Linked DNA regions of Homo sapiens: region 1 is linked to region 2. A link means that fine-mapping ties the variant in region 2 to the plasma level of a protein whose gene starts in the linked region. Region 2 holds a variant in brackets. A gene starts in the other region. All regions are shown on their forward strands. Region 1 holds the start of IFNL1 (interferon lambda 1). Region 2 overlaps IFIH1 (interferon induced with helicase C domain 1).

Evidence for each region. A credible set is the group of variants that fine-mapping cannot tell apart. PIP is the posterior inclusion probability: the model's chance that the variant is causal. Protein levels are from antibody-based Olink assays in UK Biobank. Linkage for the fine-mapping came from a reference panel and not from the study's own genotypes, which makes the PIPs less certain.
Region 1: it holds the start of IFNL1, and the variant in region 2 is the best candidate, but not a certain one, in a credible set for the plasma level of the IFNL1 protein (UK Biobank, PIP 0.80).

The regions. Positions count from the first base shown.
Region 1 is chr19:39,294,308-39,299,689 of GRCh38, forward strand. It overlaps IFNL1 (interferon lambda 1), which reads left to right and starts at 2,100. Exons shown (of 5, transcript NM_172140.2): 1 at 2,100-2,285; 2 at 2,498-2,575; 3 at 3,657-3,800; 4 at 3,906-3,989; 5 at 4,084-4,366. The coding sequence starts at 2,115. The coding sequence ends at 4,209.
Region 2 is chr2:162,277,315-162,282,696 of GRCh38, forward strand. IFIH1 (interferon induced with helicase C domain 1) reads right to left here. Exons shown (of 16, transcript NM_022168.4): 6 at 5,052-5,262; 7 at 4,014-4,231; 8 at 2,682-2,798; 9 at 891-1,014; 10 at 101-379. Among named protein-coding and RNA genes, the nearest start is that of FAP, 37 kb to the left of the region's middle. The variant A/G (reference allele first, on the strand shown) is at 3,118.

The DNA.
Region 1 (5,382 bases), not on the chromosome of region 2:
TGCATATGGAATAGGGAGCAAGTACATAGGACTCATCATACCCCATTTCTGCCTCTATCCCACTGTGGGACCTTAGGCAAGTCACTTTGCCTTCCTATGCCTCAGTTATCTCACTAGTAAAATGGGCATGATTATTGTATTAGTCAGGGTTCTCCAGAGAGACAGAACAAATAGGATGTTTGGATAAATAGATGATAGATAGAGAGATATAGACTAGATAGATGAGAGAGATAGACTAGATAGAGAGAGAGAGAGAGAGAGAGAGAGAGAGAGACTAGATAGATGAGAGAGAGATAGGAGGGGATTTATTAGGGGAATTGGCTCAGACAATTAGGGAGGCTAAGAAGTTCCACAACAGGCCATCTGCAAGCTGGAGAACCAGGGAAGCTTGTAGTGCAGCTCAGTTCCAGAATAAAAGCCTCAGGACTTAGGGGGTAGCTAGTGCAAGTCCCAGCATTTTTTTTTTTTCTGAGATGGAGTCTCACTCTGTTGACCAGGCTGGAGTGCAGTGACATGATCTCAGCTCACTGCAGCCTCCGCCTCCAGGGTTCAAGCGATACTCCTGCCTCAGCCTCCCAAGTAGCTGGGACTACAGGCCTGTGCCACCACGCCTGGCTGATTTTTATATTTTTAGTAGAGATGGGGTTTCACCATGTTGGCCAGGCTGGTCTCGAACTCCTGACCTCAAGTGATTCACCTGCCTCAGCCTCCCAAACTGCTGGGATTACAGGCGTGAGCCACCATGCCCAGCTGCACATCCCAGCATTCAAAGACCAAAGAGCCTGGAGTTCTGATGTTTAAGGGCAGGTGCAGGGTGTCCCAGCTCATAAGAGAGAGCAAATTCTCCTTTCCTCTGCCTTTTTGTTCTATTCAGGCCCTCGGCCAATTGGATGGTGCCCACCACATTGGGTAACAACGGGTCTTCCTTACTCAGTCCATTGATTCAAATGCCAATCTCTTCTGGAAACACCCCAGAGTCATACCCAGAATTAACGCATCACCAGCTATCTGATAAACTTAACCAGTCAAGGTGACACCTAAAATTAACCATCACAATTATAAAAATAACTACTCAGAGAAACATTAGGAGCATGAACTGAAATTAGTTAATGGGACATTCTTAAACCAATGGCAGAAGCTCCTTCTTGGCCAGGAGCAGTGGCTCATGCCTTTAATACTAGCACTTTGCGAGGCTGAAGCAGGAGGATGGCTTAAGGCCAGGAGTTCAAGACTGGCCTGGGCAACATAGTGAGACCCCTATCTCTACAAAAATAAATAAATAAATAATAAAGTAAGGTGGTGGCTCACGCCTGTAATCCCAGCACTTTGGGAGGCCAAGGCAGGCAGATCATCTGAAGTCAGGAGTTCGAAGCCAGCGTGACCAACATAGTAAAACCCAGTCTCTACTAAAAATACAAAAACTAGCCAGGCGTGATGGCATGCACCTGTAATCCCAACTACTTAGGAGGCTGAGGCAGGAGAATCGCTTCAACTCGGGAGGCAGAAGTTGCAGTGAGCCAAGATTGCACCATTGCACTCCAGCCTGGGCAACAAGAGCAAAACTACGTCTCAAAAAATAATAATAACAATAAAATAAAAAACAAGCTTTTTTTTTTTTGAAACAGGATCTCACTCCATCACCCAGGCTGGAGTGCAGTGGCACGATCTTGGCTCACTGCAACCTCCGCCTCCCGGGTTCAAGTGATTCTCATGCCTCGGCCTCCTGAGTAGCTGAGACCACAGGCGCATGCCACCACACCTGGCTAATTTAGAATAAAAAAGAAGCTTCCTCTCTGCCACTCAGGTAGCCTTATCCCTAATCTCAGCCTCCGTCAGGGACTCCCTGAGGCCAGTTGGCTGAAAGCTGCCCAGGGAGTTCTAAGGATTTCAGTTTCTCTTTCCTTCTTGATGCAGCTCCCAGCTCACTTGGCCCTGCCCACACCTGTTCCCTCATCAGGCTCCCAGACGGGCCCCGCCCACTCATGCCTCTTAAGTCAAAGTGGAAATTCTCATTTCCAATTACCTTTTCACTTTACACACATCATCTTGGATTGCCCATTTTGCGTGGCTAAAAAGCAGAGCCATGCCGCTGGGGAAGCAGTTGCGATTTAGCCATGGCTGCAGCTTGGACCGTGGTGCTGGTGACTTTGGTGCTAGGCTTGGCCGTGGCAGGCCCTGTCCCCACTTCCAAGCCCACCACAACTGGGAAGGGCTGCCACATTGGCAGGTTCAAATCTCTGTCACCACAGGAGCTAGCGAGCTTCAAGAAGGCCAGGGACGCCTTGGTGAGTTCCTGTTGCTGTGGATGAACCACTTCTACGGGTGTCCCAATTACTGCCCTTCTACTGTGGGCTAGCCTCTAGCCTTCCAACTATGGCAAACCTCTATCCTTTCTGCACTGGGTTAAACCCATGCTGTCAGGCCAACTTCATCCTTGCTGCTATGAGCTAGCTTCCAGCCATCCTGCTGTGGGCTAACCCCTGCCCTTGCTCTCTAGGAAGAGTCACTCAAGCTGAAAAACTGGAGTTGCAGCTCTCCTGTCTTCCCCGGGAATTGGGACCTGAGGCTTCTCCAGGTGAGCTGAAAGTCAGGCCCCCTTCACCCTTCCCTTGACCCTCTCCCCCCTCTTCTTAAGTGGCCCCTTAGCCTTCTTTGTTTCCCTTGTCCTTCACTCTCTTGGACCTCTCCTCACCTGTCCTGTGCCCCTGCCACTTCAAAACTGCTCTCTTGACTCTGTCCTTCCCCTGGGTCCCTTTTATCATCTCCCATCGGCCCCACTTCCCTAGCTCGCTCACCTGTCCCTGTCACTTCCACTCTCACTCTTCATTTCTCTCCCAAATGTCTCCAGTCTGTCGCCCACCTGTGCCTTTCGTCCTGCTCCACTTCTCCCTGTCTGTTCCCAACACTGACCCCCTCTCCCTCTCACCTGCCTCTGTCACCTGTCCCTCATTATCTCTCACTGACATTCATCCAGCTCATGCTCCCCCCTCATCCACCCTTCTCTTTTTTTTTTTTTTTTTTTTTTTTTTGAGACAGAGTCTTGCTCTATGGCCCAGGCTGGAGTGCAGTGGCATGATCTCGGTTCACTGCAACCTCTGCCTCCCGGGTTCAAGCAATTATCCTGCCTCAGCCTCCCGAGTAGCTGGGATTACAGGCATGTGCCATGATGCCCAGCTAATTTTTGTATTTTTAGCAGAGACGGGGTTTCACTATGTTGGCCAGGCTTGGTCTCGAAATCCTGACCTCAGGTGATCCACCCGCCTCGGCCTCCCAAAGTGCTGGGATTACAGGCGTGAGCCACCACACCCAGCCCTACCCTTCTTCTCTGTGCATGCAACTGTCCCTCTCTTACTGTGCCCCCAACCTGCTTTCTCCTCACCCGTCCCCACCCCGCCCCAGAGAACTTCTGTGACCCCCGTAAGTCCCCTTTCATTTGTCTCCATTTCACTTATCCCCTCACCTGCCTCCTTGACCATCCTGCCTCACCTGTATCCTTCCTCATGTCTTCCCCCTCCTGTCTCCTTCTCCCCAGACCCCTCACCTGTCCCCACCACATGCACTGTGTCACCGACCTTCCCCAGGACTGCCTACCTGTCCCCACTAACTGGGTCTTCTTGCCTGTTCTCCCTCACCTGCTCTTTCTCACCTCTCCTCAGGTGAGGGAGCGCCCTGTGGCCTTGGAGGCTGAGCTGGCCCTGACGCTGAAGGTCCTGGAGGCCGCTGCTGGCCCAGCCCTGGAGGACGTCCTAGACCAGCCCCTTCACACCCTGCACCACATCCTCTCCCAGCTCCAGGCCTGTGTGAGTCCTTGGGGCCCGGGCACCCAGGTCTGTGGGCTCTGAGCAGCATCCTTCCCCTGTGGTGGCCCAGGCTCCGCCTCACACACCGCCCTCTTCTGCCCACAGATCCAGCCTCAGCCCACAGCAGGGCCCAGGCCCCGGGGCCGCCTCCACCACTGGCTGCACCGGCTCCAGGAGGCCCCCAAAAAGGTGAGTGACCCAGGAAGAGAAGGACCAGGGTCTGGGGAGCCAATAGGAGCCCAGACCCTGGACAGCCCCTGACCCATCCCCTCCTCCCCTACAGGAGTCCGCTGGCTGCCTGGAGGCATCTGTCACCTTCAACCTCTTCCGCCTCCTCACGCGAGACCTCAAATATGTGGCCGATGGGAACCTGTGTCTGAGAACGTCAACCCACCCTGAGTCCACCTGACACCCCACACCTTATTTATGCGCTGAGCCCTACTCCTTCCTTAATTTATTTCCTCTCACCCTTTATTTATGAAGCTGCAGCCCTGACTGAGACATAGGGCTGAGTTTATTGTTTTACTTTTATACATTATGCACAAATAAACAACAAGGAATTGGAACCTTCTGTGATAGGTGAATCCTTGAGTGTGTGTGTGATTGTGGGTCTGTGACTGGGTGTGGATGTCTGGGTGATGCAGGCAAAATTTGTGACTCGTTGTGTATATTTGTGTGTGCCTGACTTCTGTGACTATGTATGTATTTGTATGGAAATGAGTGTCTGCCTGAACTTGAGTCTAACCAAAGGTGCGTAACTGTGCATGTTCATGCCCACACGTGTGCAAGTATGTGTGTGTACTGCCAGGCATGGTGGCTCACACCTGTAATCCCAGTGCTTTGGGAGGCTGAGGCAGGCAGATCACTTGAGGTCAGGAATTTGAGACCAGCTTAGCCAACATGGTGAAACCCTGTCTCTACTAAAAGTACAAAAATTAGCCGGGAGTTGTGGCATGACCCCGTAATCCCAGCTACTCGGGAGGCTGAGGCAAGAGAAATGCTTGAACCCGGGAGGTGGAGGTTGTGGTGAGCCGAGATCACATCACTGCACTCCAGCCTGGCCACCAAGAGAGAAACTCCATCTTAAAAAAAAAAAAAAAAAAAAAAAAAAAAAAAAAAAAAAGGCCAGCCTCCGTGGGCTCAGGCCTGTAATCCTAGCACTTTGGGAGGCCAAGGCGGGCAGATCACTTGAGGTCGGGAGTTTGAGACCAACCTGACCAACATGGAGAAACCCCATCTCTACTAAAAATACAAAAATTAGCCGGGTGTGGTGATGCATACCTGTAATCCCAGCTACTCGGGAAGCTGAGGCAGGAGAATCGCTTGAACCCGGGAGGTGGAGGTTGTGGTGAGCGGAGATCACGCCATTGCACTCCAGCCTGGGCAACAAGAGTGAAACTCCGTCTCGAGAAAGAAAAAAAAAAAAAGAAAGAAAAGAAAAGAAAAGCGGTCAGGATGCTACATCCTGGAACCTAACCACAATGGTGTGAGAAGCCCAGACATACAGAGAGACCACATATAGGTACTCCATCTGATAGTCCCAGTATAGCTTTTGAATCACCCCAGCTCAGGAACCAGACAT
Region 2 (5,382 bases):
TTCAAAAGATATTTCTCTTTTTGGAGAGCTTATGAGAAGCAGTAAGTTCATGTTGAAAAGGTAAATGAATGACACCAGTATATGTTACTTTGAATCTTACCAAAAAATAAAGTCATGAGAAATCTATCTGTTTCATCCAGTTTCAAAGGTTTCTTTAAATCATCCTCATCTTCATCACCATCACAATACTCATCATCACCACCCTCATCACTATCATCTTCTATGACTGCAAACTTCTTATCTTTCTCTTCATTATAGAAAGTTTCAAGATGAGTATACGCATCTATCATTCGAATTGTGTCATTAATTTGTAGGGCCTCATTGTACTTCCTCAAATGTTCTGCACAAACACGTTCTTTGCGATTTCCTTCTTTTGCAGCTGTGAAAAAATATATTATGTAAGTGAAATAATAAGCATATAAACCCCCTAAAATTGTGCCATGGACTTGAATATATGTTACTAACTGCAAAACTGGCTTCACCTTGGTTTTAAAATGGGCAAGTTAAGGCTCAAAATGTGTCCTGAGCTCTGAAACAGGGCAAGTTTTCCAACTCCTAGACTTGCTGCTTGAGTTCTGCCTCAGCAAAAACATGTAGCTGATGCACAGAGAAATGGCATGAAAATATATTAGTTGAGTTTGCCTTTGGAGACAGAGCTATTAAAGTTTATCTCAAGACTCTGGAGACAAAGAGAAAATTGGATAGCATTGGAATCTCTCTCCTTAGAAAAGGAATTAGAACATGTTTATTATGCTTGTCCTACAGAGAACACAGAAATTCTATTTGGAACTACTTTTGCTTTCCATTTTTTGGGGAATCTGTGATATAGTCATCTAAAATCTTGGTATAAACATGGGATAAACTAAGTGTTAGGTCCAAACCTAAATTACCTTTTTTTTCCATTTGAATGGCCCATTGTTCATAGGGTTGAGTTCCAAAATCTGACATTGGACTCATTTGACAATAAGTTTGAATCCTTGTCATTATTTCTAGAAGTTTCTCTTTAAATGGATCCTAAAAATAAAGTACACACTTATTCTTATGTATTCTTATTGTTAAAGGAATAACATTATCTTTGTTAGAATAATTTCTAGGTTATAATAAATCTGATTCATCTTTGTTTAGACAAAGTAACAGGTTAGTGTCCCATCACTTGTCTGTACATTTATTTTTGTCAGCTTCTCTTTTAAGCCTGCCATCAAGCCACACCCACACCAACACCCTGTTACCTCTGCTGGAATCTCCAACTTAAAAGGTTAACAAAAGTAAAGTTAATGAATTATATAAACCTTGTATGTTAAAGGTAACTTAGAAAACACATATTGCATTAATGCCACAATTATTTAGAAAGCTTACAGTGTAATTTAAGAAACATTCCTCCTTTGTAAAACTGGTTTCAGTATTATTTCGACCAAAATAAAAAGTTGAAGTAGAGTCTGAATAAAGCCAGAAATAAAGGAGTGCATGCTATATGATTCCATTTATATAAAGTTCAGAATCAGTGAAAACTCATTTTTTGTTTTAGAAGTCAAGATAGTAGTGATTCCTGGGGCATGGTGACTGGAAGGGGGAGCCAGGAGCTTTTAGGATACTGGCAGTGTGCTGTCTCTTGATTTGGATTTTGTTTACATATGTGTATTCAGTTTAGGAAAATTCAGCAATCAGTACACATATGAATTTGTACTTTTCTGTATGTATGTTATGCTTCAAGGTATATAAAAAAATTAAAGTAAGTTTAAAAAATGGCAAATTCTTTTAAAAAATGTACCTGAGAAATTTAGTTTTAAAAATCTTTATGAGTAGAAACATGCATTTAAAATTATCAAGTAAAACCAAATAAGTAACAAAAAAAGGAAAGTGAATAAAATATATTCAACTGTGCTAGTGCAGCTGGAGTAGATAGCAGTCTTTTTCAGAATTTAAAAAAAGAGATATACGGAGGCTAGTTACTAACATTGGTTTAGTGCCTACTATATTTCAAGCATTGTTTTATCTACTATGCATATTTCATATCATTTGATCCCAACATTCTTATTTTCAATGGTATTATCAAGTACATATGGCCAGAATTTGTAATGCTTTCTAAATTTTACAAAATAAAGTATTGACATAATTTACTGGCCATAATGTCCAAATTGACTCTCAGTTTATTCTTATAATTCCTGAAAAATTCATCAGAAAAGCATCATTAAAGTAAATATTTCACTTCTTTACCATTGCACTGTTTTCCTAAGAAAGTAAATATGCAAGTATGCAAATTAGATAGGATTCCCATTATCATTGCCAAATGTAATTTGATAGCAACAAAATGGCTCTGTGGAATGTCAGAAAATCAATCCTGGAATTCACGAAGAAAATTAAAAAGGCTAAAACGAACTGTCATAACCCCTCCAGCTTAGTTACACATCCCTCTGCCCATGGCCCCTCACTGTCCCTTTTAACTCATATGTACAAACAATGAATAAGCTATTCCTCATGTAAATTAGAAAACTAAAAGAGGTCTAGAGGCGAGAATTCACTGTAGTGCTTTACTGCCTAACATCAATTAAAAAAAAACCTGAAACTTGTTTGCTAAAATTTTTAAATAATATTTTTCAGATGGTCAGTATAAAATAGCCTTTGCCATCTTTCTACTGAATGTAGTATTGTCAATCAATAGATATAAAACATTAAGCCCATACTTCTCTGGTTGCATCTGCAATGGCAAACTTCTTGCATGGCTCCTGTATTTGGTTTTTCAGTTGATCAAGGTTTTCTTTAACAGTTTTAATAGTAAATGCATCAAGATTGGCACATAGCTGGAAAAGAGACATTTTTCAATATTTATGCAATTATTTTTCCCTTTCACTTTATTCAACGTAGAACTCTTTTTCATGTAAAAAATATGTAGCATTAAATTGTAGCATAAATATGTGGTATAAAATTTCATGAAAGTAATATGTAGCATTGCTTGCTAAATATAGCATTTTAACATTGTTTTATTATGGATCTCATTAACCCACAATCAGCAACATTTGTCCTAATATAGGAAAAAGGAGCTTCTAAATCAAGTTGGTGTAATAACAGAGAAAAAGGTGTATTGATATTCATTCCTTAAATTCCATTTTCCAAGTGGAA[A/G]ACTGACATGGAAAGAGTATAACAATTTACCATCATTGACAGAGAATGATTTTGAGATAACCATGTTACATGAGGCATATCAAAGGTCAACTTGACATCCGTGGATCATACTACCACCTTCTTCTACACATAAAGCAGGCATCTACACATAAAGCTGGGAGCATCCTTAGTCATGTTCCTTGATTATTAGATTGGAATTAGTCCTTAATCCCAGTAATAAATTATATTTTGGAGCCTATAATTGCATCTCTGAATGTTGTGTCTACTCTACATAATTTGTATTGAATTCAACTTAAAGTAAGGGACTTAAAATTCAAATGCAATTGCCTTGGTACCAAAATACTTCTTGGGCTACTCTGATTTACTTAACACTCAAGATTAACAGTAGCACTGTATGTGGTGTTACCATTAGGGGGCAGCTGACAAGCTCATCTTTAAAGATCTTCATATCCCTATTTCCCTTTAATTTGAATTACCTAGATTCCTAGAATAACATATGAAGGACAGAAAATACGCAGTTTTGAAACTCATGGAGTAAGACTTTATTATGTGTGACAACTAGAAACTTTCATAGTTTATGCATATTTCTATATCAGGTAGATCATTAAATTTAACCATAAGAGTAGATGTTCAAAAGAAGGCATTCTATTTATCTCAACTTCCCATTAATTATATCACTCTCCATCATTTTTATGATATGATTTTGTGTTATTGATATTTATTAAGGCATATTAGTATTCTGTAGAAGACTGAGTATATTTATTGTACTAAAGCAAACAGATTTCACTTAACTGATGATCACAGCACTTGAACTCAATCTTATTTAATAAGACCAAGAAGTCCTGGCATTTGTTTTAGCTTTGCTTTCATTGGTTATACATAAAATTATGACTTACTTTTAAAATGTGTTCTTCAGCTTTGGCTTGCTTCGTGGCCCCTCCAACACCAGGTGAAGCTGTTAGTCCCAGTATCTGAGGAAGGGGAATCACTGGTTTGTTTTCTTTCTTGAGTCTATTGTTTTTCAACTTCTGCATCAAATAATGCCTCATGATGTTATTATACACTGCTTCTTTGTTGGTGTGATGACATTCATCAATGATAATGAGGGAAAAGTCTTAAAAGAAAATTCAAAGAGTTCATTTCTCCATATCAGCACACTACAGTGAGAAAATAGCTTTAGACCAGTAATTGAGCTGCCTTGGGGATGCCTTCTCTTGGGCACGACACAAGAGCAGTCCACTTTCAGTTTTTAGGAGGGAAATCTAACTATACTAGCACCTGTACACACAGACGTTCGTATATACTAATCATGAAACTCCCTGTTAGACATTCTCCTTCTTTAATAGATAAGATTCAGAAAGTTTACAGAGCTAAAAAGCGTTAGATGTGGAATTCACACCCTGGCTTATTACAAAACAAATCTCAGGATTTTACTTTTGTTCTTTAATAAAATATTTAATTTTAGGTTGGTGAATTTTATTTTTATTACATCAAGTGAAAAACACACTATTTAAAGAGGGAAAATTTTGCCTTGTTTTAACATTGCATTTAGTTATTATAAATTATTTTTATTTTTTTCCATTCTTTCTCCTACCTTCTCATCCTATACCCCATAAAAGACAAGATTTGTATTTTTATTCTATGGGAAAGGGAAGCAGATCTAACAACATTCAATAGCAAATAAAGGAACTTGTCAGAATAAATGGAAAGTCCAGCGAGTGCTTGCCTTAATAATGGTATTCTTATGCAGAATAAAGTGGTCTAATTAAAAACTTACTTTTTTTGTTTCCTCCAGGAAGTAGAAGGATTTTAATAAAACCATAAGCAATAAAAGACAATTTAAGCCACGAACATTTAAAAAATTAACAAATACAGCCTTTGTTATCATCAATATTACTATTAATTTTTTTAAAAAAATAAACACTTAAACTGACCTGACAATTGAACACCAGCATCTTCTCCATTTTCCAAGTTTAAGAGGGAGTTTTCAAGGATTTGAGCTGTACTGATAATAATATCACAGGACTTGACAACTTCTGGAAATGATATTTTCAGTTGGGTATCACCACTTAATCCAATAACACGATACCATTTCTTCAAAAATGGTTGGAACTCCTTGCGGAAGAGCTGTTCAACTAGCAGTACCTTAAAAAAATGTGAAGATTTTTTAAAAGAGAGAAAGTTAGTCGAAGCCAAAAGAGTGTTGATCAAAGGCCTGTTTGGCATCCAGCATGAAAAGAGGTGTTTACATTATCAGTGAATCAG